Linked DNA regions of Homo sapiens: all the other regions are linked to region 1. The links come from fine-mapping of genetic effects on gene expression. A gene starts in region 1. Each other region holds a variant in brackets. All regions are shown on one strand. Distances are between the middles of the regions. Region 1 holds the start of ADGRE3 (adhesion G protein-coupled receptor E3). Region 2 overlaps ADGRE3 (adhesion G protein-coupled receptor E3). Region 3 overlaps CLEC17A (C-type lectin domain containing 17A).

Region 1 (10,348 bases):
ATAGTCAGTTAGTGGATGGGGCTGCAACGGCTGAGAACTAGCTGGGCATTGTCCCTTCACCTGTTGTCTCAGGGTGTTGGGCTTGTTTGGGCTTCCTTCAAACATGGAGACCTGAAGCAAGCTGCTTTAATGGAACATCTAAGCTCTAAGCATGAGTGTCCCAGCTGATGAGGCTGCATTTCCTCTTGACACTCATCCCTGAAAGTCACCTGGCTCTACTTCCATCATATTCCCTTGGTTACAAGCAAGTTACAAGCTCATTCAGATTCAAGTGGAGAAGAATCAAATTCTTCCTCCTTATGAGAGACCAGCAAGGTTCTAGAAACACATTTTTGATGGGGGATATTATTTCCACCTTTTTGGAAAATTGTCTGCTCAGGCTGGCTCTATTGTGGCTGGTAAAGAGCCCTTTGCTCTTCCCCATGCCTTTCCAACATCCGATGATGTCATCAGTCATGTTCCTGCTTCTGCAAAGACCTAAAGATGCTGGACAGATGGACTGCTTTTTTTCTGTCACTTCAGCTTTGCAACGACTTTAGCAGGAAAGTGCTATTAGCATCATCTCTGCTTTTCAGATTAAGAAATGGAGGCACAGAGAAGGTAAGTAACTTGCTCCATTCACTGGGGCTAGTCAGTGGCAGAGCTGAGGTTAAACACGGGTTCTGGGTTCTAGCTGATAACCCATTACACCACATAGCCTCTCCTTCAGAAATCCCACAGGGCACTACCTGCATGGAAGTGCTGTTCAGATTGTAGACACTGTAGGTTGGCATGTTTATTGTGACAGTGACTTGTCCTTTTTTCCCCCGGCAGATGCCACTCACCAGATCTGACTGGAGCCTCAAAGTCCCGTAGAGAGTGGTATGTGACTTGGTCATTTAGGGCAGTGCAGACCAATTGTAGGATTTTGGAGAAGAGGCCCTGGGGGCTAACTGTGTGACTCTTCAGGAGAGGTAATGGCAGCAATCTAAATCCTTCTGGATCTCTCTCTTGAGTTTCCAATTGCTGCTATCACAAATTACCATGACTGTAGTGGCTTAAAACAACACTGATTTATTATTCTCTTACAGGTCTGGAAGTCAGAAGTCTTAAATCAGCCTCTATAGGCTAAAATCAAGAATGTTAGTAGGGCTGGTTTCTTTTGGAAGCTCTAGGGGAGAATCTGTCTCCTTGCCTTTTCCAGCTTCTAGAAGCTGCCTGCATTTCTTGGCTCACGGACCCTTCCTCCTTCTTTAAATCCAGCAGCACAGCATCTTCTCGTCTTCCTGATCTTCCACCTCCCTCTTAAGAGGACCTTTGTGATTATTATATTAGGCCCCCTGGAAAATTCAGGGTACTACCCCCATATTAAGATTCTTATCTTAATCAACATCTGCAAAGTTTCTTTTACCATGTAAGGTAACATATTAACAGGTTCCAGGGATTAGGATGTGGATGTCTCTGGGGGGACTGTTATTTTTCTTCCTGTAATTCTCACCCTTCCCCCAAGAAGATGCCAGGTCTGGTTTGTGATCAGTTACTTATGCAATTGCATTCACAGAACATTTTGAATATTCTCAGCTGGGCTTAATGTCAGGCTGATGTTTCCTTTAAAGTCCCCTTCCTTCTACATTTTTTATTTTTATTTTTATTTTTTTGAGGCAGGTTCTTTTTCTGTTGCCCCGGTTGGAGTGCAGTGGTGCAATCATACCTCACTGTAGCCTTGAACTCCTGGGCTACATGCATGAGATACCACTTGTGGCCAATTAAAAAAAATTTTTTTGGTAGAGATTGGGTCTTGCTGTGTTGACCGAGCTGGTCTTGAACTGTTGGCCTCAAGTGATCCTCCTTCTGTGGCCTCCCAAAGTGTTGGCATTATATGCGTGAGGCACTTTCTTCTTTTGTATATACATGAATGTGTAGCAGCCACACAAACCTTACGCCTGCCCAAATGATGACTAGCTCACAGGGCCAACTGATAAACCATATGGCTGAATAGTGTTACCCTGTTCCTAAAACTCAGGCAGTCTGGGGGACCATCATGTTTCCTTAAGACTAGTCTTTAGTCTAACCAGCAAGCCTGTACTCACTAATTTGGGCAAAGGTCTTAAGTTAGGGTTTCTGAAGAGTCATCGGTGTGTCAGAATCCCAGAGTTCTAAGAAACTTTAGAAATCATCCACTGACTTATTTTGTAGATGAGGAAACAGGTCCCCTGGGGTTAAGTGGCTGGCACACTAGTTGGGCAAATTTGGGTAAGTTGTTTAACTTCTCTAAGCTTCCTTATGTGAAATAGGGTGGCAGTATGACCTACTTTGTGGGGTTTTGGAGATGACCTAAATGAGGGACTGTGTAGAGCACAATGTCAGGCAGGAAGTCCTCCACTGATACTGGCTGCCTCTGTCACCATCTGACTTCCTCCTTTCCCATTTGGATGCTTTTTCTTTCTCTCTTTTTGCCTAATTGCTCTAGCTTGCTGCCTATATTATCATTTGAGCTCTGTTGCTCAGGCTGGAGTGCAGTGATGCAATCACAGCTCATTGTAACCTTGAACTCCTGAGCTCAAGCGATCCTCCCACCTCAGCCTCCAGGGTAGCTGGGACTGCAGGTGTGTGCCACCATGACTGGCTAATTTTTTTTTTTAATGTTTCTTGGAGACAGAGTCTTGCTATGTTGCTCAGTCTGGTCTTGAACTCCTGGCTCAAGCAATCTTCCCGCCTTGCCTTCCAAAGCTTTGGGATTATAGGTATGAGCCTCCATGCCCAACCCTGGAATCCTAATTCTTGACCCAATGCTCATATCATCACCCTTGCCTGTACCATCCAGTGATATGGGCTAAAAGTTCCTGGATAACCAAAATTCACTAATAATCCACCTCAGAAGTGTGGAGGACTCTGTCTCCAGTTGCAAAAAGGCAGGCTTCTTTCACATTTGATTCCACATATACTGAAACACCTCTTATATATAAGATGCTATGCTAGGGGTTGCAAAGGTGAGGGAGACATGGCATTAGGATTTAAGTGTAGCTTGTATTATTTTGATAGAATTTACAGCCTATCAGCTGCCTCTGCAGCAGAATAGCTGTGAGGCTTTGAGAAATTCACAGAACCTCTCTATGATGCAATTTCTTATCTGTAATGTGCAGATGCTATGTGACAATGTAAAGCAATTTAAGCCTAATGCCAGGCTAAAGTAGCTGCTTAATAAATGTAAGCTTTGATTGATATTGGGACTATCAATATTGTTAATTCATCTGGAGCTGGAAAGATGGATGGGATTTCATCCGTACAGAGATGGTGGTTGAAGCCATGGAATTAGGAGATTCCCATAGGGAGAGGGAGTAGAAAAACAGAAGATCCCAGTAAGGATCCTGTGGGAGGAGCATTATAGCAAAGATCTGGAGACAGATGGTTTGGATTCAAATCCCAGCTCTCTTATTTACTAGCTGTGTGATGTTGGACAAATAACATAACCTGTGCCCCAGTTTTCTTATCTGTAAGATGAGGATACCCCATGAGCATACTGATGATGCAACAGATTAATACATGTAAGGTGCATAGTGAGTTTTCAAAAATGTTGGTTATCATTATTTTCTTTGTATAAATTTATGGGATACAAGTGTAATTTTGTTACACGCATAGATTTCATAGTGGTGAAGTCAGGGCTTTTAGAGTATCCACCATCCAAATGATGTACATTGTAACCATTAGGTAACTTCTTATTTTCCACTGTCCTTCTACTCCCTCAGCCTTCCCAGTCTTCATCGTCTATCATTCTACTCTCTATGTCCATGTGTCCACATTATTTAGCTCCCACTGATAAACAAGAACATGAGGCATTTGTCTTTTGGTGTTTGAGTTATTTCACTTAATATAATGACCTCTAAAATTAATAATAAAATTATCATTTATTTTCTTGTCACAGGAAAATGATAAAGGAGGGAGAAGAAAGAATAGCAAGAGAAAAAGGAAAAAAGTCAGGGCAGGGCTAGTTTGCAGAAGTTATCAAGAAGGAGAAGACATCAATTAGAAAACAAAACTTGCCAAGAGGAAGATGAACAACGTATTAGAGACCGGGTGCGGTGGCTCATGCCTGTAATCCTAGCACTTTGGCAGGCTGAGGCGGGTGGATCACCTGAGGTCAGGAGTTCGAGACCAGCCAGGGCAACATGGTGAAACCCCATCTCTACTAAAAATACAAAAATTAGCCAGGTGTGGTGATGTGTGCCTGTAATCCCAGCTACTCAGGAGGCTGAGGCAGGAGAATCACTTGAACCCGGGAGGCAGAGGTTTCAGTGAGTCAAGATTGCGCCACTGCACTCCAACCTGGGTGACAGAGTGAGATTCTGTCTCAAAAAACAAAACAAAACAAACAAACAAAACAAACAAAAAACCAAGCTACTAGATTGGATAGGAACATTTTAGGGATATTCGAGAGCATACTTTGAATAGGGTAGTCAGGAAGGAAACCACACTCCAAAGGGAAAAGGTGAGAGTGTTCAGAGCAGAAGAAAGAGGAGGAGAAAATAACCAATTGTTGAACCAAGTGGTCCCTGACTGGGGGATAGGTTAAGCCTCAGTCATTGTTACAGTCACACATACCTGGAAGAAGCAATGGTCCCTGCATTTCTGTGGTACGGGTATCCCACGCCAGCCAGCCCTGGAAGCTCTCTACTGTGCCGTAAGCCAACCACCTTTCCTAGCTCAAGAAATCCCATGAGAATTGAAGTATGTATCTTAGGTCAGCTGACTCATGAAATTGCTATCAGAAAAGCAAACTGCTTCCCCTCTTTCGCCATCAGACTCATGGTTCTGCTTTTCGTTTATTTGCTGTACCTTTTCTGCCTAGCTATTGTTGATCACCTTTGGGATGATTGAGTTGGTAAACCCTAACGAGGAAATGCCCTGAAAGTTACATCACATTGTCTGAGGATTAGGAAGTGCCTTTGGGGCCAAAATAAATCTTAAATAAGCCTGTGGCTTTGAGGTGAGTAAACCAGATTTTAGGGTGTCTGTGTTGGTATCTGAAGTTTCCAGAGGAGTCATTTTAACATATCTTTCTCTTCCCCCAGTAGATGATACTTACTGGTTATGATTGCTGAGCCATAAGAAGTTAAGAGTCCCAAAGTCTCATAGAAGGTAATACATTATTTGGTTATTTGGACCAACCCTAACCAGTCACAGGACTTGGGAGAAAAAGTCTGTAAATCTACCCTTCCTCCAGCAAATATTTATTTATTTATTTATGTGGGTCTTGCTCTGTTACCCAGGCTGGAGTGCCGTGGCACAATCATAGCTCACTGCAACCTCAAACTCCTGGGCTCCAGCGATCCTCCCACCTCAGTCCTCTGAATCGTTAGGACTACAGGTGCATGCCACCACGCCTGGCTAATTTTTTTTAGTTTTTATTTTTTTTTTTGAAGAGAGACAGGGCCTCGCTTTGTAGCCCAGGCTTGTCTTGAATTTCTGGGCTCAAGCAATCCTTCTGCCTCAGTCTCCCAGTGTTGAGATTACCGGTGTGAGCCACTGCACCCGGCTCCCCTGCTTAAAACTCTTCTGAAGCTCTTCATTAGACTTAAAACACCAGACTTCCTACTGAAGCAGTGTTGTTGTCTGGGGTTCATCCTCTCATGCCAAGTAAATCAAGGATGCGGATGCACAAGAAGTGAATTTAAGGCCGAGCACTGTGGCTCACCCTTGTAATCCCAGCACTTTGGGAGGCTGAGACGGGCGGATCACCTGAGGTCAGGAGTTCAAGACCAGCCAAGCCAACATGGTGAAACCCTGTCTGTACTAAAAATACAAAAATTAGCTGGGCATGGTGGCGCATGCCTGTAATCCCAGCTACTCGGAAGGCTGAAGCGGGAGAATTGTTTGAACCCGGGAGGCAGAGGTTGCCGTGAGCGAAGATTGCGCCAGTTCCTTCCAGCCTGGGTGACAGAGTGAGACTTCATCTAAAAAAAAAAAAAAAAAAGTGAGTTTCAGAGCAGAAGTTTAACAGGCAAGAGAAGAGAAAAAAGAGAAAAGCTCTATCCTGCAGAGAGAGAGGGGCTCCCAAGTGAGTCTTCTGGTCTCGTGGTGAAATACATGGGGTTTTATAGCCGAGCTTGAGGAGGAGCTGTCTGATTTACACAGGAACCGAGAGATTGGTCGGACTGGGTGTGCTGTTTGCATAGCACGCAAAGAAGCTGGCCGCCCCATCCTCATCTTTTACTATGCAGATGGGGTCTCTACCTGGCTGGCACTATGTTGCCTGCTTTTTTACTGCACACGTGGTGATAAAGAAAAGGGAACATGGTGAAACCCCGTCTCTACTAAAAATACAAAAAATTAGCCGGGCGCGGTGGCGGGCGCCTGTAGTCCCAGCTACTCGGGAGGCTGAGGCAGGAGAATGGCGTGAACCCGGAAGGCGGGGCTTGCAGTGACCCGAGATAGCGCCACTGCAGTCTGGCCTGGGCGAAAGAGCGAGACTCTGTCTCAAAAAAAAAAAAAAAAAAAAAAAAGGGAAGAGGGAACCTCCATGTTGAACATGCCTGCCCCCAGGAAGCCTTTTCCTATTGGCACAGCCGCTGCATTTACCTTTGCAAACTTCCAGCTTGCTTATTTATGTTTGTAGCTCGATTTTGCAGACTGCTCTTTGTCGTGGTGGTGATGATGATGATGGTGATAATAACGGTTGTGGTGGTGATGGTGGTAATCATGGTAGTGGCAGGAGTGATGGTGGAGCTATAGGTGGTGGTGGTGACGATGAAGGAAGGGATGATGGTGATGATGACGATGGTTGCGATGATGGTGAAGATGATGAAAGTGACGGTGATGGTAGTAGCGATGGTGATGGTTACATTATGGTGATATTTTCAGAGATGGTGGTGATGATGGTGATTGAAGGTGACAGCTGCAGTGAAGGTGATTGTTGTGGTGATGGTGACGAAGGCTGTGATAGCAGTGGTGATAATGATGGGGTGAAAATAGCAAAGGTGGTGGTTATATTGGTAGTGGAGGTAAAGACGAAAAGAAATGATTTTGGGGCTGCTTTTTGTTAACAGGGAAGCCTTACTGAGGACTCTCTTACCCTCACCAGTTGCCTGAATAATATCTTTTTAGCTCTTGTATCACTAGATACAACAGGAACAAAAAGGAACAAACAAACAGGCAAACAAACAAAAAAACCACTGCAAGAAAGTAGCCCTGGTGGCAACTGAAGACACGGTCATGGATTAAATCATTTAGGGAGAGATTATAGAGTGGAAAAAGAACCCTGAGTAATTCATTTAAAAACTCAGGCAATGTTAATTTGTGCAAAGGCAATAGAAAAAAATTAAAAAAAATAAAGGAATGGAGAGGCAGCTAATAGAGGAGACAGGACGAGAATGGCCAGAGAGATGAGGGGTGGGGGTGGGAAATGAATGGAGTATGGTATTATGGAGGTAAAGGAAAGAGATCACACTGAATTAAGACTGAAAGACACCCACAGGAGAGAGCTGCAAGGGGGTTGTTTGTATTCTTAGCATGAACAATTACAGTAGTGAAGGTGGTGGTGGTGGTGATGATGCTGATGCTGATGATAGCGGTTGTGGTGGTGGTTGTTATATATAAAGTTTCGGTGACGTGAAAGAAATAGCACTTGAATATAAAATTTTCCTTTTAATTCTCAGCAAGGCAAGTTACTTCAATATAGAAGGGTGTGCCCTTACAGATGGAACAGTGGCGAGCGCACATTCGGACATGGGAGGGGAAGGGGTTCTTATCCCTGACTCAGGTGGCCCCTGCTGCTGTGTCGTTCCCCTATTGGCTAGGATTAGACCGCGCAGGCTAAACTAATGCCGATTGGCTAATTTAAAGAGAATGACGGGGTGAGTGCTTTGGCGGGAGTCAGGGCAGAGCAGGTAGCAGGTAATCGGAATGAGTTAGGGTGGAGCAGGTGATCAGAATGAGTCAGGGTGGAGTAGGTAATCGAAAAAGCTGCTTTACGAGGAAGTTAAGTTTAAAAGTAGAAGGCAAAGAATTGAACATACTGACATATTAATTCTTTGAAAATAAATTTAGAACTCATATCTAACATGGTGATGATGATGATGATAATAACGGTTGTGGTGGTGATGATGATGGTGATAGAATGGTTGCAGTGGTGATGGTGGTCATCATGGTAGTGGCAGTAGCGATGGTGGTGGTAGAGGTCGTGGTGGTGATGACGGAAGTGATGATGGTGGTGATGATGATGGTTGCGATGGGGCTGAAGGTGACGAAAGTGACGACGGTGGTAGTAGCAATGGTGGTGGTAACATCACAGTGATGTTTTCAGAGATGGTGGTGATGATGGTGATTGATGGTGACAGTTGTAGTGAAGGTGACTGTTGTGATGGTGATGAAGGCTGTGATAGCAGTGGTGATGAAGATGGGAGTGAAAATAGTGGCGGTGGTGGTTATGTTGATAGTGGAGGTAAAGATGGTGGTGATGCCAATAATGGTAGGGAAGGTGGTGGAGGTTGTTGTTATAATGGTTCAAGCCAGAATTATGTGGATTGAGGAAAAAGCGCGAGGGGAAGAAGTGGAGACAGCAAGTGAAGTCACCTGTAAAGACAGTTGGAGAAAAAAGTATGAGCAAAGCAAGATGATCAAGAGACCTCCCTGGGTGTTTGGAGCATGGTGGAATTAGCTGGCTATTGGGATTGTCAAGGCCATGAACGTACGTAGTAGGTTTGTTGGGCTCTCAACATCCTACTGTCCCAGCATGCATGCAGTGAGGCTTCCTGATCTTTCTCCCTAGTGATCGTCTAGGGGTGGGGTTGTAGAGGCAAGAGTTGATCAAGAGAGACAGGTGGTGCTACCTAATGGTCAGGCCAAAGTGGTTCACATAGTTTGGATGTTGTTCCCTCTAACTCTCATCTTGAAATGTAATCCCCAGTGTTGGAGGTGCGGCCTGGTGGGAGGTGATTGGATTATGGGGGTGGATTTTTGATGGCTGGTTTAGTGCCATTTCCTCGGTGCTGTCCTCATGATAGTGAGTGAGTTCTCATGAGATCTGGTTGTTTAAAAGTGTGTGACTCCTCCCCTCTTCTCTCTTGCTCCTGCCCTCACCATGAGACACCTACTTTCCCTTCACCTTCTGCTATGATTGGAAGCTTCCCAGGCCTTCCCAGAAACCAAGCAGATGTCAGCTTCCTGTAAAGCCTGCGGAACCACGGGCCAGTTAAAACACTTCTTTATCAATTACCCAGCCTTGGATATTCCTTTGTAACAATGCAAGAATGGCTTAACTCAGTAGTTATGCTATTACAGAATGTTGGCTGCAGAGTCAGAATCCCTGGGTTCAAATCCTGGCTCTGCCACTGATTAGCTGTGTGACTTTGGGAAAGTTACTCAACCTCTCTTTTCTGCAGGCATCTCTGATCTGGGATAACTGCAATAGTCTCGTAACTCGTTGTCCTTCTGTCCCATCCTCCACCGTGCAGTCAGGACAGTTTTCTGAAAGATGATTCTGGGCCCATCACACCTCTGCCTCACAACCCTGTGAATATTTCACAGGCTAAATGCACTTACTTAGTAGGTGCATAAATCTCACCCCACTCTGGTCCCACTCCACTTCTCCAGCCTCATTTCCTACCCTTCTGCTTCAGCCTTTCCACCTTCCCTGATACATTTTCTGTTTCCCTAAACTCCACATTCTATTTGTAGCCTTTCATGCCTTTGTACATGTGATTCTCTCAACCTGGAATGCCCCCCCATTTTTTTTTTTTTTTGAGACAAAGTCTCACTCTGTCACCCAGGCTGGAGTACAGTGACATGATCTTGGCTCACTGCAATCTCCGCTCCCCGGGTTCAAGCAATTCTCCTGCCTTAGCCTCCTGAGTAACTGGGACTATAGGTACCCGCCACCATGCCTGGCTAATTTTTGTATTTTTAGTAGAGATGGAATTTCCTCACGTTGGTCAGGCTGGTCTCAAACTCCTGGTCTCAAGTGATCTGCCTGCCTTGGCCTCCCAAAGTGCTGGGATTACAGGTGTGACCCACTGTGCCCCACCTGGAATGCCCTTTCTTTTTCTTTCTTGCCACTCTACTCCTGGCCACGTCCTTCAAGTGGCATTCTTTTGCATGTCCTTCCATGATAAACTCTTGTGAAAGGAAAATAAAGTCTCAGGACTCCAATTCAGGAATAAAATTAAGCTGAAAGCGGAGTCAAGCAGACAGCTACAGATAAAAGGCCAGATATCTTCACAGGTAGCTACTGTATATTCATTTTATCTTACATAAAGTGCCGATTTACTGAGCACAAGGTGAATACATCATTGACTAGTCCCCCACCTGCTCCTTTTATCTCTGGCAACACATTGGTTCAGTAATGTGACCAAACTCTCCCTCTTTCCCCTCCAGT
Region 2 (8,000 bases), 34 kb before region 1:
GTTTCCCCTTGAGATATTCTTTCAGGTCCTGTGTACCAGTGAAACTACTGGCTTCAGCTGCTCTGAAGGACCACAGAAGGAGCTGAGTCACCAAAGAAGGCAGTTTCCGTCTCCTGATGATTTTGTCTGCTGTACCCTGACCCACATTTTCCAGCCTCCACACCCTCCATGATCCCTTTAAAAGTCCCAGTCCCGAACTCCTTGAGGAGATTGATTTGAGAGTCTTCTCTCATCTTCTCGCTTGGCGCCCTGAGATTTTTAAGCTCTTTTTTTTTTTTTTTTTTGAGACAAGGTCTTGATCTGTCACCCAGGCTGGAATGTAGTGGCCTGAGCATAGCTCACTGCAGCCTTGAACTCCTGGGCTCAAGCAATCCTTCCATCTCAGCTTCTTGAGTAGCTGGGACTACAGGTGTGAACCACCATGCTTGGCTATTTTTTTTTTTTTTAATCTTTAGTAGACACAAGGTCTTGCTATGTTGCCCAGGCTGGTCTTGAAGTTGTGAACTCAAGTGATCCTCCTGTCTGGGCTTCCCAAAGTGCTGGGATTACAGGTGTGAGCCACTGTGCTCAGCTAATTTTTTGTAGAGATGAGGGCCTTGCTATATTGCCCAGGCTGGTCTTGAACTCCTGGCCTCAAGTGATCCTCCCACGTTGGCCTCCCAAATTGTTGGTATTACAGGTGTGAGCCACCACACCTGGCCTCATTAAGCTCTTTCTCTGCTGCAAACCCTGCTGTCTTGGTGGATTGGTACGTTACTGTGCAGTGGGCATATGAACCTGTTGGTTGTATAAGACTTCCAGAACCTTGCAAACTCTTACCACCATCTCACCCTGCTTTGTTGGGAAAGAGGTTAGAGCTGTTATAAAGGAGAACGTAGAGTGCATTGGTTACGTATATTCCCACCATCATCATGAATGCTGCCCTCAAAAGCTTTCTTAGGAAACTGTCCATGACACAAGGTGGGATTCAAGCTCACCGATCAGCAGTTCCATAAAGGTGAGGCCAGGAGGCTGCAGAAATGGCCACAGTCACAGCGGGAACGCCATAGCCGACTGGGAACATGATCCACTTCATGAGTCTATTGATGCTTGAGTAGTTGACCACTGTCAGGTTCCGTGCAGTGAGGAAGAGGTGCACACCCTCCAGCAGCATCCAGGTGAAGGCGGCCAGGTAGAGATAGTGCAAAGCACCGGCGATGATGGAGCACAGCACCTGGGGGAGGAGAAAGGGATGCCTGAAGGGGTTGTCAGGGTGGAGTATGGCCCTAGGACCTCTCCTTGACATTGGCTTTGGGTTCAGAGCACCTGACATCAGACCAAGGGCACTAAAAGTAAAGGGGAACTGGATGCAGTGGCTCATGTCTGTAATTTCAGCACTTTGGGAGGCTGAGGTGGGAGGATTGCTTGAGCCCAGGAGTTTGAGACCAGCCTGGGCAACTTAGTGAGACCCCATCTCAATTATATTTAAAAAAATAGATAGTTGATAGTCAAGGATAGCTTTGGCCACCTGGGCACCAATCCCTTCAACCTGCCCTTGGGACTGAAAGGGTAGCAGAATGTGCCACCTCCACCTATGCCACTTTGCAACAGATCACCAGAATTTACCCCTCCTTTTAAACTAAGACTTTGTATACTTTGAGCTATGTCTCCTTTCCTCATCCACTTCCCCCCTCAACCTCTGAGAACCTCCATTCTACTCTCTACTCCTACTGTATTGCGTGGTGACTATAGTTAATATATTATGAATTTTGAAGTTGCTAAAAGAGTGGATTTTGTTCTATTTTATTTCTTTGTGACAGGATCTCACTCTGTCACCCAGGCTGGAGTGCAGTGGCACAATCATAGCTCACTGCAGCCTTGAACTCTCAGGCTCAAGTGATCCTCCCACCTCAGCCTCCCTAGTAGCTGGGACTACAAGTGTGTGCCACCATATCCACTAATTTTTGCAGAGACGGGGTCTCACTGTGTTGCCCAGGCCAGTCTCCAACTCCTGGGCTGAAGTGATCCTCCCGCCTTGGCCTCCTAAAGTGCTGGTATTACAAGCATGAACCGCCACCCCAGTCCTAAAAGAGTGAATTTTAAATGTTTTCACCACAAAGAAATGATAAGTATGGAAGTGATAGATATGTTTATTATCCTGGTTTGGTCATTTCATAATGTGTATGTCTATGGAAACTTCACATTGTACCCCATAATTTTATACATTTATTATTTTTCAATTAAAAATAAAATTTAGAAAAAAGTTTCACTTTAGCATAAGAGATTATTATTATGATTATGATTCTTTTTTTTTTGAGACATGGTCTTGCTCTGTCACCCAGGCTGGAGTACAGTGGTTGCAATCATAGCTCACTGCAGCCTCGAACTCCTGGGTTCAAGCAATCTTCCTGCCTCAGCCTCCCAAGCAGCTGGGACTACAGACGTGCACCACTGTGTCCAGCTAATTTTGTTATTTTTTTTGTTTTTTTTGTAGAGACAAGGTCTCACTATATTGCCCAGGATGGCCTCAAACGCCTGGCCTCAAGTGATCTTTCCACCATTGCCTCCCAGTGTGCAGGGATTGCAGGTGTCAGCCACTGTGTCTGGCCCAAGGGATTATTTTAAACTGAAGGCAGTTGAGAAGAAGCAGATACAAAAATAGCTCTCTGCCCTCCCCCTATTTGCCTAAAAGCAGGACATACGTTTTTGTACTTGTCTTTTTTGGGGGGTGAGAACACTTAAAATCTACTTTGTTAGCAATTTTTCAATATAGAATATATTGTTATTGACTATAGTCATGATGTACAATAGCTCTCTTGTATTTATTCTTTCCGTCTAGCTGAAATTTGGTATCCTTTGACCAACATCTCCCTAAACCCCTTCCCTGCTGCCTTAGTCTCTGCTAACAACCATTCCCCTCTTTGGTTTTATGAGTTTGGCTATTTTAGATTCCACACATAAGTGAGATCATGCACTGTTTGTCTTTCTGTGCCTTGCTTATTTCACTCAGCTTAACAATCTCCAGGTTCATCCATGTTATCACAAATGGCAGGATTTCCTTCTTTTTCTGAAGGCTGAATAGTATTCCAGGACATTAGTTTACAAAGGCATTCCTCATACCTATTCTCTTCCTTCTACCCTCCTACCCTTGCTATGGGGGGGACAAAAGTTGATCACTAAGACAACTTATTTATTTATTTAAGATGGAGTTTTGCTCTTGTTGCCCAGGCTGGAGTGCAATGGCGCAATCTTGGCTCACTGCAGCCTCTGCCTCCCGGGTTCAAGCAATTCTCCTGCCTCAGCCTCCCAAGTAGCTGGGATTACAGGTGCTCATCACCACGCTGGGCTAATATTTTGTATTTTTAGTAGAGACGGAGTTTTGCCATGTTGACCAGGCTGGCCTTGAACTCCTGACCTCAGGTGATCTGCCCACCTCAGTCCCCCAAAGTGCTGGGATTACAGGTGTGAGCCACTGTGCCCGGCCACCGAGACAACTTTAGATCCTCATTGGTCTGGAGCCAACACCAGAGGAATCTACAAAACCAATGATATGGTTTGGCTCTGTGTCCCCACCCAAATCTCATCTTGAATTGCACTCCCATAATTCCCAAATGTTGTGGGGAGGACCCGGTGGGAGATAATTTGAATCATGGGGGCGGTTTTCCCCATATTGTTCTCGTGGTAGGAAATAAATTTCACGAGATCTGATGGTTTTATCAGGGGTTTCTGCTTTTGGATCTTCCTCATTTTTTCTCTTGCAGCCACCATGTAAGAAGTGCCTTTCGCCTCCCGCCATGATTCTGAGGCCTCCCCTGCCATGTGGAACTGCAAGTCCAATTAAACCTCTTTTTCTTCCCAGTCTTGGGTATATCTTTATCAGCAGCCTGAAAATGGAGTAATACAACCAATGATACTAGTAAGCCTTTATCTATCACTCATTTCCCAGATATTTGCCTTCCCATAATTTGTGCCCCTAGAGAGCCAAGATCTTTTTCCCTTCTTCAAAAATTCATCATTCTTTGTCAAAAACGCTGTCGTTCTAAACTACCTCTTTGAGAATGCCTCGTTACCTGGGTATCTCCCATGTATATATGAAATATGAATATATGTTAATGAACTTCTGTTTGCTTTTTCTCTTATCTGTCTTTTGTTACATGGGTCCCAGCTACGATCTCAGAAGGGTAGCGGGAAAATTATATTTTTCTCCTCTACAGACCCAAGGACATTTTATTAAGGAATCTAGTGCAGCATTGCTCCATGAGCTCAGTGTACCTTGGGGCAGAAAGGGCATCCTCTGAGACACTGTCAGTACCTTGGGTTCAGTTCGATCAATCCCCACGAGGAAGAGGAGGTGGGCCAGGAAGAGGCAGAGCGAGAGCTGCAGATGCAGTGAGGTGCTGGTGTTC[C/T]GGATGGCTTTACACAGGAGAAAAGTGAGGGCCGCCAGGAGGAGGCACAGCAGAGAGACGCTCAGCCCCACGTAGGTGATGACAGTCAGCACGGGATCCTCCTCCTGGGACCGAGAAAAAAAGTTCACAGTGATGCTTTCCTGCACTGGGATTATGGCTCCCTCCTTGAACTGGGGCATCCTAGACACAGGCACCAAGCCCAGTGGTAGTGTGGGACCGTTAGACTGCTAATGTAGATTGCTAATGTAGACTGCTAATATACACTGCTAATATAGATGGCTAACGTAGATTGTTAATGTAGACTGCCAATGTAGATTGTTAATACAGACTGCTAATGTGATTGTTAATGTAGACTGCTAATATAGATTGCTAGACTGTCTTTTTTATTTTCAGCTTTATTGAGGTGTATACTTAATGTATCAAAAATTACTCATATTAAATGTATACACTTTGATGAGTTTGGACATATGATTTTTTTCCCCTAAAAAAAGTAGAATGGCAGTTACCAGAAGCTGGGGAGAGGAGAGAGAGAGAATAGGGAGTTGGTTAAGGAGTGAAGAGTTTCAGTATTGCAAGATGAAAGAGTTCTGGAGATGGATGGTGGTTGATGATTGCACGATATGATTGTACTTTACTGAACTGTATATACATTTAAAAATGGCTTAGATGGTAAATTTTATGTTCTGTGTATTTTACCACAATCTTTACAAAGTGATTTTTGGGCCATGGTGTCTCACACCTGTAATCCCAATGCTTTGGGAAGCTGAGGTGGGAGGATTGCTGGAGGCCAGGAGTTCAAGACCGACCTGAGCAACAAGTGAGACCCCGTATCTAAAAAAAAAATAAAGTGTCTTTGTATGCAGAGGGCTTGTGCTATGCAGTACCAGTTTGATCAGAGAGCTCATACTAATGAAGGGATTTAAAAAACTTTTTTAAGTTCAGAGATACATGTGCAGGTTTGTTACATAGGTAAACCCCTGTCGCGGGGGTCTCTTGTACAGATTATTTCATCACCCAGGTATTAAGCTTAGTACCCATTAGTTATTTTTCCTGGTCCTCTCCCTCCTCCCACTCTCCACCCTCTTTGTGTCTGTTGTTCCCCTCTTTGTGTCCATATGTCTCCTCATGTAGCTCCCACTTATAAGTGAGAACACGAGTATTTGGTTTTCTGTTCCTGTGTTAGTTTGCTAAGGATAATGGCCTCCAGCTCCATCCATGTCCCTGCAAAGGACATGATCTCATTCTTTTTTATGGCTGCATAGTATTCCATGGTGTATGTATTCCATATGTACCACATTTTCTTTATCCAGTCTACCATTGATGGGCATTTAGGTTGATTCTATGTCTCTGCTATTGTGAATAGTGCTGCAGTGAACATACATGTGCATGTGTCTTTATGATAGAATGATTTATATTCCTTTGGGTATATACCCAGTAACAGGATTGCTGGGTTGAATGGTAGTCCTGTTTTCAGCTCTTTGAGAAAGTGACATGCTGCTTTCCACAATGGTTGAACCAATTTACAACCCCACCAACAGTGTGTGTTCCTTTTTTTCTGCTACCTCACCAGCATCTGTTATTTTTTGACTTTTTAATAGTAGTCATTCATGATGTGGTTTATAGTAATCATGGTTTTTTTTTTTTTTTTTTTTTAGACAGAGTCTCGCTCTGTCGCCAGGATGGAGTTCAGTGGTGTGATCTCGGTTCGCTGCAACCTCTGCCTCCCAGGTTCAAGCAATTCTCCTGCCTCAGCCTCCTGCGTAGCTGGGACAACAGGCGTGTGCCACCACACCTGGCTAATTTTTGTATTTTTAGTAGAGATGGGGTTTCACCATGTTGGTCAGGATGGTCTTGATCTCCTGACCTCGTGATCTGCCTGCCTCGGCCTCCCAAAGTGCTGGGATTACAGGTGTGAGCCACTGTGCCTGGCCCAGTAATCATATCTTTGCCCTGGGGTCCTATAGTCTGAGCAACTGAGGTCAACCATGTAGGCATTGCATCCCTATGTGAATGATCCCCCAATACACACCCTGAACACCAAAGCTCTGGTGAGCTTCCCTGGCTGACAACACTTCACATGCGTTGTCATAAGTCATTGCTGGGAGAATGAACTGCATCTGTGTGACTTTCCTGGGAGAGGACACTGGAAGCTTGCACCAGGTTTCTCCTGGACTTCTTACCTTGCGTCTTTTCCACATGTTGATTTTTTTTTTTTTGAGATGGAGTCTTGCTCTATCACCCAGGCTGGAGTGCAATGGCTTGCTCTCAGCTCCCTGAAACCTCTGCCTCCCAGGTTCAAGCCATCCTCTTGTCTCAGCCTCCTGAGTAGCTGGGATTACAGGCATGTACCACTATGTTTGGCGAATTTTTGTATTTTTAGCAGAGATGGGTTTTTGCCATGTTGGCCAGGCTGGTTTCAAACTCTTGACCTCAGGTGATCTGCCCGTCTTGGCCTCCCAAAGTGCTGGGATTAAAGGCATGAGTCACCATGCTCGGCCTTTTTTCAGTTTTTTTTTTTTTTTTTAATAGCACTTATTACCACTTAGTAGGGGCTCAGAAAGTATTTGCTGGAAGAATAAAACATATACATCATACCTGGCTGGTCAGGGCCATCAGGACAGCGAAGCTGGACAGGTGACTGCAATTACACATGGTGTGACTCTTGTTCACGTGTATCAGGAAGCAGCCATCCCTGGACCACTGGCTGCCCTGCCCTGTGCTCTTCCAGTAGACACAGAAGACCTTTTTGGTACTGGGGGTCATCTGAAAATAGAAAATAGAAAGGGCTCATTGTCTTTGTCTTTCTTTCTTTCTTTTTTTTTTTTGGAGACAAAATCTTGCTTTGTTACTCAGGCTGGAGTGCAGTGGCTCAATCTCGGCTCACTGCAACCTCCGCTTCCTGGGTTCAAGCGATTCTCCTGCCTCAGCCTCCCAAGTAGCTGGGATTACAGACGTGCAGTACCACACCAGGCTAATTTTTGTATTTTTTGTAGAGACAGGGTCAACCGTGCTGCCCAGGCTGGTCTCGAACTCCTGGACTCAAGCAATCTTCCTGCCTTTGCCTCCCAAAGTGCTGGGATCATACAGGCATGAGCCACTGCATCTGGCCAGCTCATTGTCTTTTTCCTCAGGAGGGACAGTTCTCAGTGTTGGCCTATGCCAGGGTGCCACCTGCTAAGGCACCTGTGTGAAGAGTGACTCAGGTGATTTCTGTTTTGTTTGTTTGTTTTTGAGACGGGGTCTCATTCTGTCACCCAGGCTGGAGTGCCGTGACGCAATCACAGCTCACTGCCACCTTGACCTCCCTGGCTCAAACGATCCTCCCATCTCAGCCTCCAGAGTAGCTAGAACTACAAGTGTGTACCACCATGCCCAGCTAACTTTTGTATTTTTAGTAGAGATGGGGTTTCAACATATTGCCCAGGCTGGTCTTGAACTCCTGGCCTCAAGCAATCCTCCTGCCTTGGCCTCCCAAGAGGCTGTGGTTATGGGCATGAGCCGCTGTACCTGATTTCTATTTTATGCGGCCACCAGGACCCCCGATCCATAACCGCAGCTCTTTTGGGATTTTATGTAACATAAAATAAAGCAAAGGCTCCCTGGGAACCACAGTTT
Region 3 (9,353 bases), 62 kb before region 1:
GGATTTGTCATTGGCAAAGAAGGGGCCTAGAGACCCTGATTGCAGGGTGTGTGGCACAGGTAGCATTGCTCATTATTTTGGTACACCACCCCCAGTCATTCCCATTTCCCTGTGTGCTTGGCATCCTTGCAGTCCAAGCTGATAGGGTGTCTAGCATCCCAGGCTTGGCCAGACAGGGACAGCACCAGGGTGATTTTTTGGTGACAGGCTGTCTGGACCCTGAACCTTCAATATTTCCTCCATTGCAACATCTCAGTCTTTTCGTAAAACTGCTGAAATATATCAAGCTCTCCAGGCTAATGGTTGGGAGAAAAAAGGGAGGGTGGAAGGATGAGGAAGAATTTTTTTTTTTTTTTTTTTTTTTGAGACAGAGTCTCACTCTGTTGCCCAGGCTGAAGTGCAGTGGTGCAGTCTTGACCCAATGCAACCTCTGCCTCCCAGGCTCAAGTGATTCTCCCACCTCAGACTATTGAGTAGCTGGGATTACAGGTGCGCACCACCATGCCTGGCTAATTTTTTTTTTTTTTTTTGAGACGGAGTCTCACTCTGTGGCCCGAGCTGTAGTGCAGTGGCACAATCTTGGCTCACTGCAACTTCTGCCTCCTGGATTCAAGCGATTCTCCTGCCTTAGTCTCCCAAGTAGCTGGGATTACAGGCGCCCGCCACCATGCTTGGTTAATTTTTGTAGTTTTAGTAGAGACGGGGTTTCAACATGTTGGCCAGGCTGGTCTCGAAATCCTGACCTCAGGTGATCTACCCGTCTTGGCCTCCCAAAGTGCTGGGATTACAGGTGTGTGCCACCGCACCTGGCGGAACATTGGCTGCTAAAGGCTCACAGGAATGCTTTTTCCGCAAAGCTATTCTCAGCTGAATGGGAGCCTGCTCACCTAAGACACTACCCAACTCCACTGGGGTCAGCTCACAACCGGTGACAGCCTAAGAGAAGCCTGGACCCCTTGTGACAAGTTGGGATGACTCTGGTGCTGTTGACATCCCAGTGGTCTCTGTTGGGGTCAGGCTGAGGCTAGAGTCATCTGAGTCCATGCTCCTGCTCAATTCCTTCCCCTTCTCCATCTAGCTTCCCTCACCTCTCTCCTAAGAACATCCTTTAATAAATCCTACACACTCGAGTCCCTGAATCAGGCCCTGCTTTAAGCAAGAGCCCACATGATCTAAACAATTCCTAGAAGGTTGGGTTGGGAGGTTGTAAAAGAAAGAGTCCTTGGAAGACAAGACAGAAACTGACCAGATTCAGAAATTGATTAAGGGGCCAGGCACGGTGGCTCGTGCCTGTAATCCTAGCACTTTGGGAGGCTGAGGCGGGCGGATCACTTGAGGTCAGGAGTTCAAGACCAGCCTGGCCAACATGGTGAAACCCCGTCTCTACTAAAAATATAAAAACTAGCCGGGTGTGGTGGTGGACACCTGTAATCCCAGCTACTTGGGAGGCTGAGGCAGGAGAATTGCTTGAACCCAGGAGACAGAGGTTGCAGTGAGCCGAGATCACGCCACTGCACTCCAGCCTCAGCGACAGAGTGAGACTCTGTCTCCAAAACAAAACAAAACAAAACAAAAAACCCCCCAAAACCAGAAATTGATTAAGGGCCAGGCACGGTGGCTCACTGTGCCCGGCTTACAGGTGTAAGGCTCCACACACGGCCTAATATGGGTTTTGCCAAATGCGTAGTGCCAGGTATTCATCATTACAGTATTATACAGAAGAGTTTCACCACCCTAAAGATCCCTGTCCCTCTGCCCACTTTTTCCTCCATCCAGCTTCTGGGAGCCAGAGGAACCCAATAACATCCACGATGAGGACTGTGCTACCATGAACAAAGGTGGCACCTGGAATGATCTCTCTTGCTACAAAACTACGTATTGGATTTGTGAGCGGAAATGTTCCTGTTGAAGCCCAGGGCCGAGGCTGGGGGTCCATATCTGAGTGTCTCTTTGAGATGAGAATCTCCTGCCCTTTCGTGGACGGCCTTGCCTCTTCGTGAGTGGACACACAGATGTGCCTCAAACAGGATTGGCACCCTGGATGCAGCAAGTTCCCAGGGGTGCAAGTCAGGCTGTTTCTAGAGTGAGGACTTGGGCTTGCCCTAGTAGATGGTGAGCTGGGAGGATGCTCAGAGCTTGGTGGTGGGAGGTCTCCCACTTCTGGGGTTGAAAGGATCTTCACTAAGTTCCTGATCATGACTCTTGGGAAGTGATACTAGCCCTGAGGACCCTGGGGCTGGTGTTGAACCTGGGATGAAATATCCTGGCGCCTGTGAACCACAAAGAGCTGGGACTGGGCTCCTTTTCCTGCAGCCTCAAACTTCTGGGCTCAGGTGATCCTCCCATCTCAGCCTCCTGAGTAGCTGGGACTACACATGCGCACCACCATGCCTGGCCAATTTTTTGTAGCATTTAAAGAGAGGGAGTCTCACTATGTTGCCCAGGCCAGTCTCAAACTCCTTGCCTCAATGGATCCTCCTACTTGGGCTTCCCAAATTGTGAGGATTACAGGTGTGAGCCACTGTGCCTGGCTCAAAATTATTATTATTATTTTTATAGAGATGAGGTCTCACTCTGTTGCCGAGGCTGGTCTCAAACTCCTGGGGTCAAGCAATCCTTCCGTGATGGCCTCCCAAAGTGCTGGGATTACAGGCATGTGTCACCGTACCTGGCCGATATTTTTATTTTTATTTTTACTTTCCCCATCTTTTCCTTTTTTTTTTTTTTCCAAACAAAAGCTTTGAAAGTGGTGACAGAAAAATTTCCCTTTGAGCTAGACCTCTAGATCTGCCTCGCACAGAAATACATTAAGTGGGCTGGTCTCATGTAGTCCCCACATCATTGCAAATTACAAACCTAAAAATACAGAACATCAGCGGAGAAGACAGGAGAGCTTCTATATTCACCCCATGTCGTCCTCTCCAGACACTGCTTCCTTCCTGGTCTCAAACAGCACAAATAACCCAGAAACCATCAAAATTATTTTTGACCAGCAACTTTCTCAATGTCTTGGGTGAGGTTTGCACAAGCTAAGTGGCAGAATCAGACTTTTGCCAGAAGACTTGGCCCGTGGAACTTCTATCCTTTTTTTTTTTTTTTTTTTTTTTTGAGATAGGGTTTCATTCTACTACCCAGGCTGGAGTGCAGTGGCACAATCATAGCTTACTGCACCCTCTGCCTCCTGGGCTCGAGTGATCCTCCTGCCTCAGCCTCCCAAGTAGCTGGGACTACAGGCGTTCACCCTCACACCTGGCTGGCCCATGGAACTTCTAGAAAGGCATACCAGCTGAAAAGCAAGACCCCTACATAGTGTGGCCAGGCAGGCCATAACCTGGTCATATCCACACAGGACAACGATGGACCTATCTGCCAGCACGTGCCCTTGAGCTATCTGTGGGTTGTAACGTCTTTGATGATATAATTCACTTTACTTGCCAGGCACAGTGGCTCACGCCTGTAATCCCAGCACTCTGGGAGACTGAGGTGGGCTGATCACCTGGGGTCAGGATTTCGAGACCAGCCTGGCCAACATGGTAAAATCCTATCTCTACTAAAAATACAAAAAAATTAGCTGGGCGTGGTGGCATGTGCCTGTAATCCCAGCTACTCAGGAGACTAAGGCACGAGAATTGCTTGAACCCAGGAGGCGGAGGTTGCAGTGAGCCGAGATTGTGCCACTGCACTCCAGCCTGGGTGACAGAGCAAGACTCCATCTCAAATAAATAAATAAAAATAAAAATTCACTTTACTTCTGTGTGGACTTTCCTGGGCTATTAGCTCTTGCAATGTTAGTGCTTCTCAAAATGCCACTATGTTGGGTGTTCCTTGTCTACTGTGTGTTAGTTTGCTGGGGCTGCCATAACAAAGGACTGGGTGGCTTCAGCAACAGAATGCATTTTCTCACAGTTCCGGAGGCTGGATGTCCAAGATCAAGGTGTTGGCAGGGTTAATTTCTTCTGAGGCCTCCTGTCTTGGCTTGTAGATGATCCTCTTCTCCCTGTGTCTTCACCTGGTTCTCCTTCTGTGTGTCTGGGTCCTAATCTCCTCCTCCTCTTCTTTTGTTTTTGAGACAGGGTCTCGCTCTGTCACTCAGGCTGGAGTGCAGTGGTGTGATCTCAGCTCACTGCAACTTCCACCTCCCAGGCTTAAGCATCCTCCCGCCTCAGCCTCCTGAGTAGCTGGGATTACAGGTGTGCACCACCGTGCCTGGTTAATTCTTGTATTTTTTGTAGCAACGGGGTTTCACCATGTTGCCCAGACTGGTTTTGAACTCCTAGGCTCAAGCAATCTGCCCACCTTGGTCCCCCAAAGTGCTGGGATTACAGGCATGAGCCACTGTGCTGGGCCTACAACGACCACTTTAAAGATCCTGTCTCCAAATACAGCCATATTAGGAGGTCCTGGGAATTAGAATTTAAACATATGCATTTGGGAGGGGTGGCACAATTTGGCCCATAACATTCACAAACTGCCAGAGTGACCCCCACCCGACCCTCCTGCCCTGGCCATGTGACAACCAAAAAATACCAATTAGAGGGCTGGTACTACTCCCAGCTAGGCATAACTCAACATAGTATTCCCTTTGGACAATCCCTGAATTGCATCCAAGGGTGGGTAGACATTCTCCAAACCAATCAATTTATT[T/TA]TTTTTTTTTTTGTGACAGAGTCTTGCTCTGTTGCCCAGGCTGGAGTGCAGCGGCGTGATCTCGGCTCACTGCAACCTCTGCTTTCCAGGTTTAACTGGTTCTTCTGCCTCAGCCTCCTGAATAGCTGGGATTTCAGGCACGTGCCACCATGCCTGGCTAATTTTTGTATTTTTAGTAGAGACAGGGCTTTGCCATGTTGGCCAGGCTGGTCTCGAACTCCTGACCTCAAGTGATCCGCCCACCTCAGCCCCCTAAAGTGCTAAGATTACAGGCGTGAGCCACCATGCCTGGCCTTATTTTATTTTTTGAGACAAGGTCTCACTCTGTCGCCCAGGCTGGAGTGCAGTGTTGTAATCATAGCTCACTGAAGCCTCAAACACCTGAGCTCAAGAAATCCTCCGTCCTCAGACTCCTGTATAACTAGAACTACAGGTGTGCCCCCACCACACCCAGCTAATTTTAATTTTTTTTTTTTTTTGTATAGACAGGGGTCTTGCTTTGTTGCCCAGACTGGGCTTAAACTCCTGGTCTCAAACAATCCTCCTGCTTCAGCCTCCTAAAATACAAGGATTGCGATCAATTTATTGATCAATAAGCTCCCTTAATCAATAGCAGAATCTTTCCTGTTTTGTCTGAGAACAGGTGCTTATAGCAAGGAGACTGTGAGGAGAGCAGGTGGTGGGAGAGGTCGGAGCTGATTTCACTTCCTGTTTCTTTGATTTGTTTTAAATCTACTTGTTCTTTTATTTCGTTATTAAAAAAATTTTTTTTGAGATGGAGTGTCACTCTGTCACCCAGGCTGGAGTACAGTGGCATGATCTCGGCTCACTGCAACCTCCTCCTCCTGGGTACAAGCGATTCTTGTGCCTCAGCCTCCTGAGTAGCTGGGATTACAGGTGTGCGCCACCACATCCGGCTAATTTTTGTATTATTAGTAGAGACGGCATTTCGCCACTTTGGCCAGGCTGGTCTCGAACTCCTGACCTCAAGTGATCCACCCGCCTTGGCCTCTCAAAGTGCTGGGATTACAGGTGTGAGCCACTGCACCCAGCCTCGTTATTTATTTTTAAGAGATGGGTTCTCAGGACGTGGCCCAGGCTGGAGTGCAGTGGCATTTCACAGGCACGACCCCACTACTGAGTTTTGGTTCTGTCTGTCCTCTCTTCTCACCTCTGCCCACCTCTGCAGCTGCCCTGATGCATCACTACCAAAGCCAGCTCCTGTACTGTCCGCAGCCTGCTGAGTGGGTGGGTGTCGTGTTGTAAACCCTCCACCCAGGGGACTGTTATGTCAAGCAACTTTATCTGGGGTCAGGGGAAGTTCCCACATTTCAGAAGAGGGAAGTTGTTTTCTGATATGCGTATTGAGAAATGGGGAAGCAGGGGTCTGTGGTCACGTCTCTAGGAGGCCCCTGGTGGAACTGGTCCCAACCTATCTCCCTTCCACATCTCTCATGATTATCTAATTGCAGAGAGGTAAATATGAAAGAGGTCACTTTTTACCACTTTAGGTCCAGGGGAGCAACAGTTGGATAAAAATAATAACCATGGTTTATCAAACATATATTGTGTGGTAAATAAATGCAGTGGCTCTCATTGAATCTTCACCATGACTTTGTGAGGTTGGAATATTTACCAACGCCCGCCAATCTTTTTTTTTTTTTGGGCAGAGTCTCACTCTGTCTCCCAGGCTGGAGTGCAGTGGTGTGATCTCGGCTCACTGCAACCTTTGCCTCCTGGGTTCAAGCCATTCTTCTGCCTCTGCCTCCCAAGTAGTTGGGATTACAGGTACACCGTAATGCCCAGTGAATTTTTTCGTATTTTTACTAGAGATGGGGTTTTGCCATGTTGGCCAGGCTGGTCTCAAACCCCTGGCTTCAAGTGATCTGCCTGCCTTAGCCTCCCAACGTGCTGCGTGCTGGGATTATAGGTGTGAGCCACTGTGCCCGGCCCCCATTTTTTTTTTTTTTTAAAGACAGGGTCTCACTCTGTCACCCAGGCTGAAGTGCAGTGGTGCAATCACAGCTCATTGTGGCCTCAACCTCCTGGGCTCAAGTGATCCTCCCACCTCAGCCTCCCAAGTAGCTGTGGCTATAGGTGTGTGCCACTACACCTGGCTAACCAACCCCATTTTATACCTGGGCAAACTGAGGCCCAGAGGTGGGGTCTCACGGCTTGTCCATTGTCATTTAGTGGGTAAATGGCAGAACTGGGATTCAGATTCCATCTGTGCCTCCCACTGTTTGTTGATCTCTTTCTACAGCTGCCTTCTTTTTTTTTTTTTTTTTTTTTTTGAGATGGAGTCTCACTCTGTTGCCCAGGCTGGAGTGCAGTGGTGTGATCTTGGCTCACTGCAACTTCCATCTCCCACCCCAGCTCCCTCGTTCCTCGGGAGAGGTGACTCTGAGATGCATGTTCCACATTATCTCCTGAAAGTCCCCACTAGGGTAAAGCTCCACCTGCCTAGAGAGATAGCCTGCTCAACTAACACATTTTTGGTTAATTTTTAAAATTAAAAAAAATTTTTTTTAGAGAGACAGCATCTCTGGCCAGGTGTGGTGGCTCACGCCTGTAATCCCAGCACTTTGGGAGGCCGAGGCAGGTGGATCGCTTGAGGCCATGAGTTCGAGACCAGCCTGGGCAACATGTTGAAACCCCATCTCTACTAAAAAATACAAAAATTAGCCGGGCGTGGTGGTGCGTGCCTGTAATCCCAGCTACTCAGGAGGCTGAGGCAGGAGATTTGCTTGAACCCGGGAGGCGAAAGTTACAGTGAGCTGAGATTATGCCACTGCACTCCAGCCTGGGCAACAGAGAGACTCTGCTAAAAAAAAAAAAAAATTAGAGAGACAGGTTCTCGCTGTGTTGCCCAACCTAGAGTGCAGTGGTGCAATCATAGCTCACTGCAACATTGAACTCCTGGGTTCAAGCAATCCTCCCGCCTTCGCCTCCAGAGTATCTGAGACTACAGGTGTGTGCCACTGCTCCCAGCAATAACACATCTTTTAACACATCTTGTTCTTTCTCTGCCTTACTTTTTTTTTTTTTTTTAACAGAGTCTTGCTCTGTCGCCCACTGTAACCTCCGCCTCCCAGGTTCAAGTGATTCTTCTGCCTCAGCCTCCCGAGTAGCTGGGACTACAGGCCTATGCCACCACACCCGGCTAATTTTTGTATTTTTAGTAGAGACGGGGTGTCACCATATTGGCCAGGCTGGTCTTGAACTCCTGACCTCTGCCCTTGTGATCTCCTCGTGATCTCCACGTGAACTCCTCGTGATCTGCCCATCTCGGCCTTCCAAAGTGCTAGGATTACAGGTGTGAGCCACCGTGCCCAGCCCTGCCTCATTTCTTCACACCCCGTTGGTGTTTCCTGGGATCATCTCCAAAATAATCTACCTGCATGCATTAAACTCCTTATCTCAGAGTTTGCTTTTGGGAGAACTCAAATGATGATGCTATGGGATGAGTGTCATCATCAAAGATGAGTTTGTGAAATGGTTCTGGTTTGCCTGGGACTGAGGGACTCCTGGATTGTGGGACTTTTGGTACTAAACCTGGGAAAGTCCCGGGTAAACCAGAATGAATTGACTATCCTTATAGGAGGATAGTGTGGCATCAGGGAAGCCAAGAGAAGAGAATGCTTCAAGAAGAAAAAAAATGATCAACAGAGTCAAATGTTGACCCAGCGGTCAAGTTTGGTAAGACTGAGAAACAACCAGTGGACTTTGCACCGAGGAAGCATTTGGGACATTGGTTCATCCTTTGGTGTGTTGCAAGCAGAAGTTAGATTGCAGTGGTTGAACAGTGAGGAGGTTGGAGCAAGTGAAGACAACACAGTGGAAACAAGCTTTTTTCTAGAATTTTTTTTTTTTTTTTTTTGAGATGGAATTTCGCTCTTGTTGCCCAGTCTGGAGTGCAGTGGCGCAATCTCGGCTCACCGCAACCTCCATCTCCCGGGTTCAAGTGATTCTCCTGCCTCAGCCTCCTGAGTAGCTGGGGATTACAGACATGCGCCACCACGCCTGGCTAATTTCGTATTTTTAGTAGAGAGGGTGTTTCTCCATGTTGGTCAGGCTGGTCTCGAACTCCTGACCTCAGGTGAACCACCCGCCTTGGCCTCCCAAAGTGCTGGGATTATAGGTGTGAGCCACCACACCCCACCTTTTTTTCTAGAATTTTGGCTGTGAAGAGGAGGAGAGATAGAGTGGCTATTGCAGAGGGAAAGCAGATTAAGGGGAGACTTTTTGGATAGAAGGGGCCTGAACATGTGTCCTCTCTTTTCCTTCCTTCTTTTCTTTTCTCTTTTCTTTTCTTTTTTCTTTCTTCCTTCCTTCCTTTCTTTTTCGTTCTTTCTCTTTCTCTCTCTCTTCCTCTCTCTCTTCCCCTTGCTTCCCTCCCTCCCTCCCTCCCTTTCTTTCTTTCTTTCTTTCTTTCTTTCTTTCTTCCTTTCTTTCTTTCTTTCTTTCTTTTCTTTCTCTCTTTCTTGATGGAGTCTTACTCTGTCACCCAAACTAGAGTGCAATGGCATGATATTGACTCACTGCAACCTCTGCCTCCTGGGTTCAAGTGATTCTCCTGCCTCAGCCTCCCAAGTAGCTGGGATTACAGGCCCCTGCCACCACGCCTGGCTAATATTTGCATTTTTAGTAGAGATGGGGTTTCACCACATTGGATAGGCTGGTCTCGAACTCCTGACCTCAGGTGATCC

Evidence for each region. PIP is the estimated chance that this variant, and not a neighbour inherited with it, causes the effect.
Region 2: its variant is fine-mapped to the expression of ADGRE3 in whole blood (INTERVAL, PIP above 0.99).
Region 3: its variant is fine-mapped to the expression of ADGRE3 in whole blood (INTERVAL, PIP above 0.99).

What each region holds. Positions count from the first base shown.
Region 1 is chr19:14,670,168-14,680,515 of GRCh38, forward strand. ADGRE3 (adhesion G protein-coupled receptor E3) reads right to left here and starts at 4,677. Exons shown (of 16, transcript NM_032571.5): 1 at 4,579-4,677. The coding sequence starts at 4,603.
Region 2 is chr19:14,637,128-14,645,127 of GRCh38, forward strand. ADGRE3 (adhesion G protein-coupled receptor E3) reads right to left here. Exons shown (of 16, transcript NM_032571.5): 9 at 6,981-7,148; 10 at 4,292-4,489; 11 at 978-1,213. Among named protein-coding and RNA genes, the nearest start is that of SNORA104, 19 kb to the left of the region's middle. The variant C/T (reference allele first, on the strand shown) is at 4,386.
Region 3 is chr19:14,608,288-14,617,640 of GRCh38, forward strand. It overlaps CLEC17A (C-type lectin domain containing 17A), which reads left to right. Exons shown (of 14, transcript NM_001204118.2): 14 at 1,777-3,748. The coding sequence ends at 1,909. It also overlaps a transcript of ADGRE3 not described here. Among named protein-coding and RNA genes, the nearest start is that of SNORA104, 9.2 kb to the right of the region's middle. RefSeq lists a silencer at 5,939-5,988. The variant T/TA (reference allele first, on the strand shown) is at 4,645.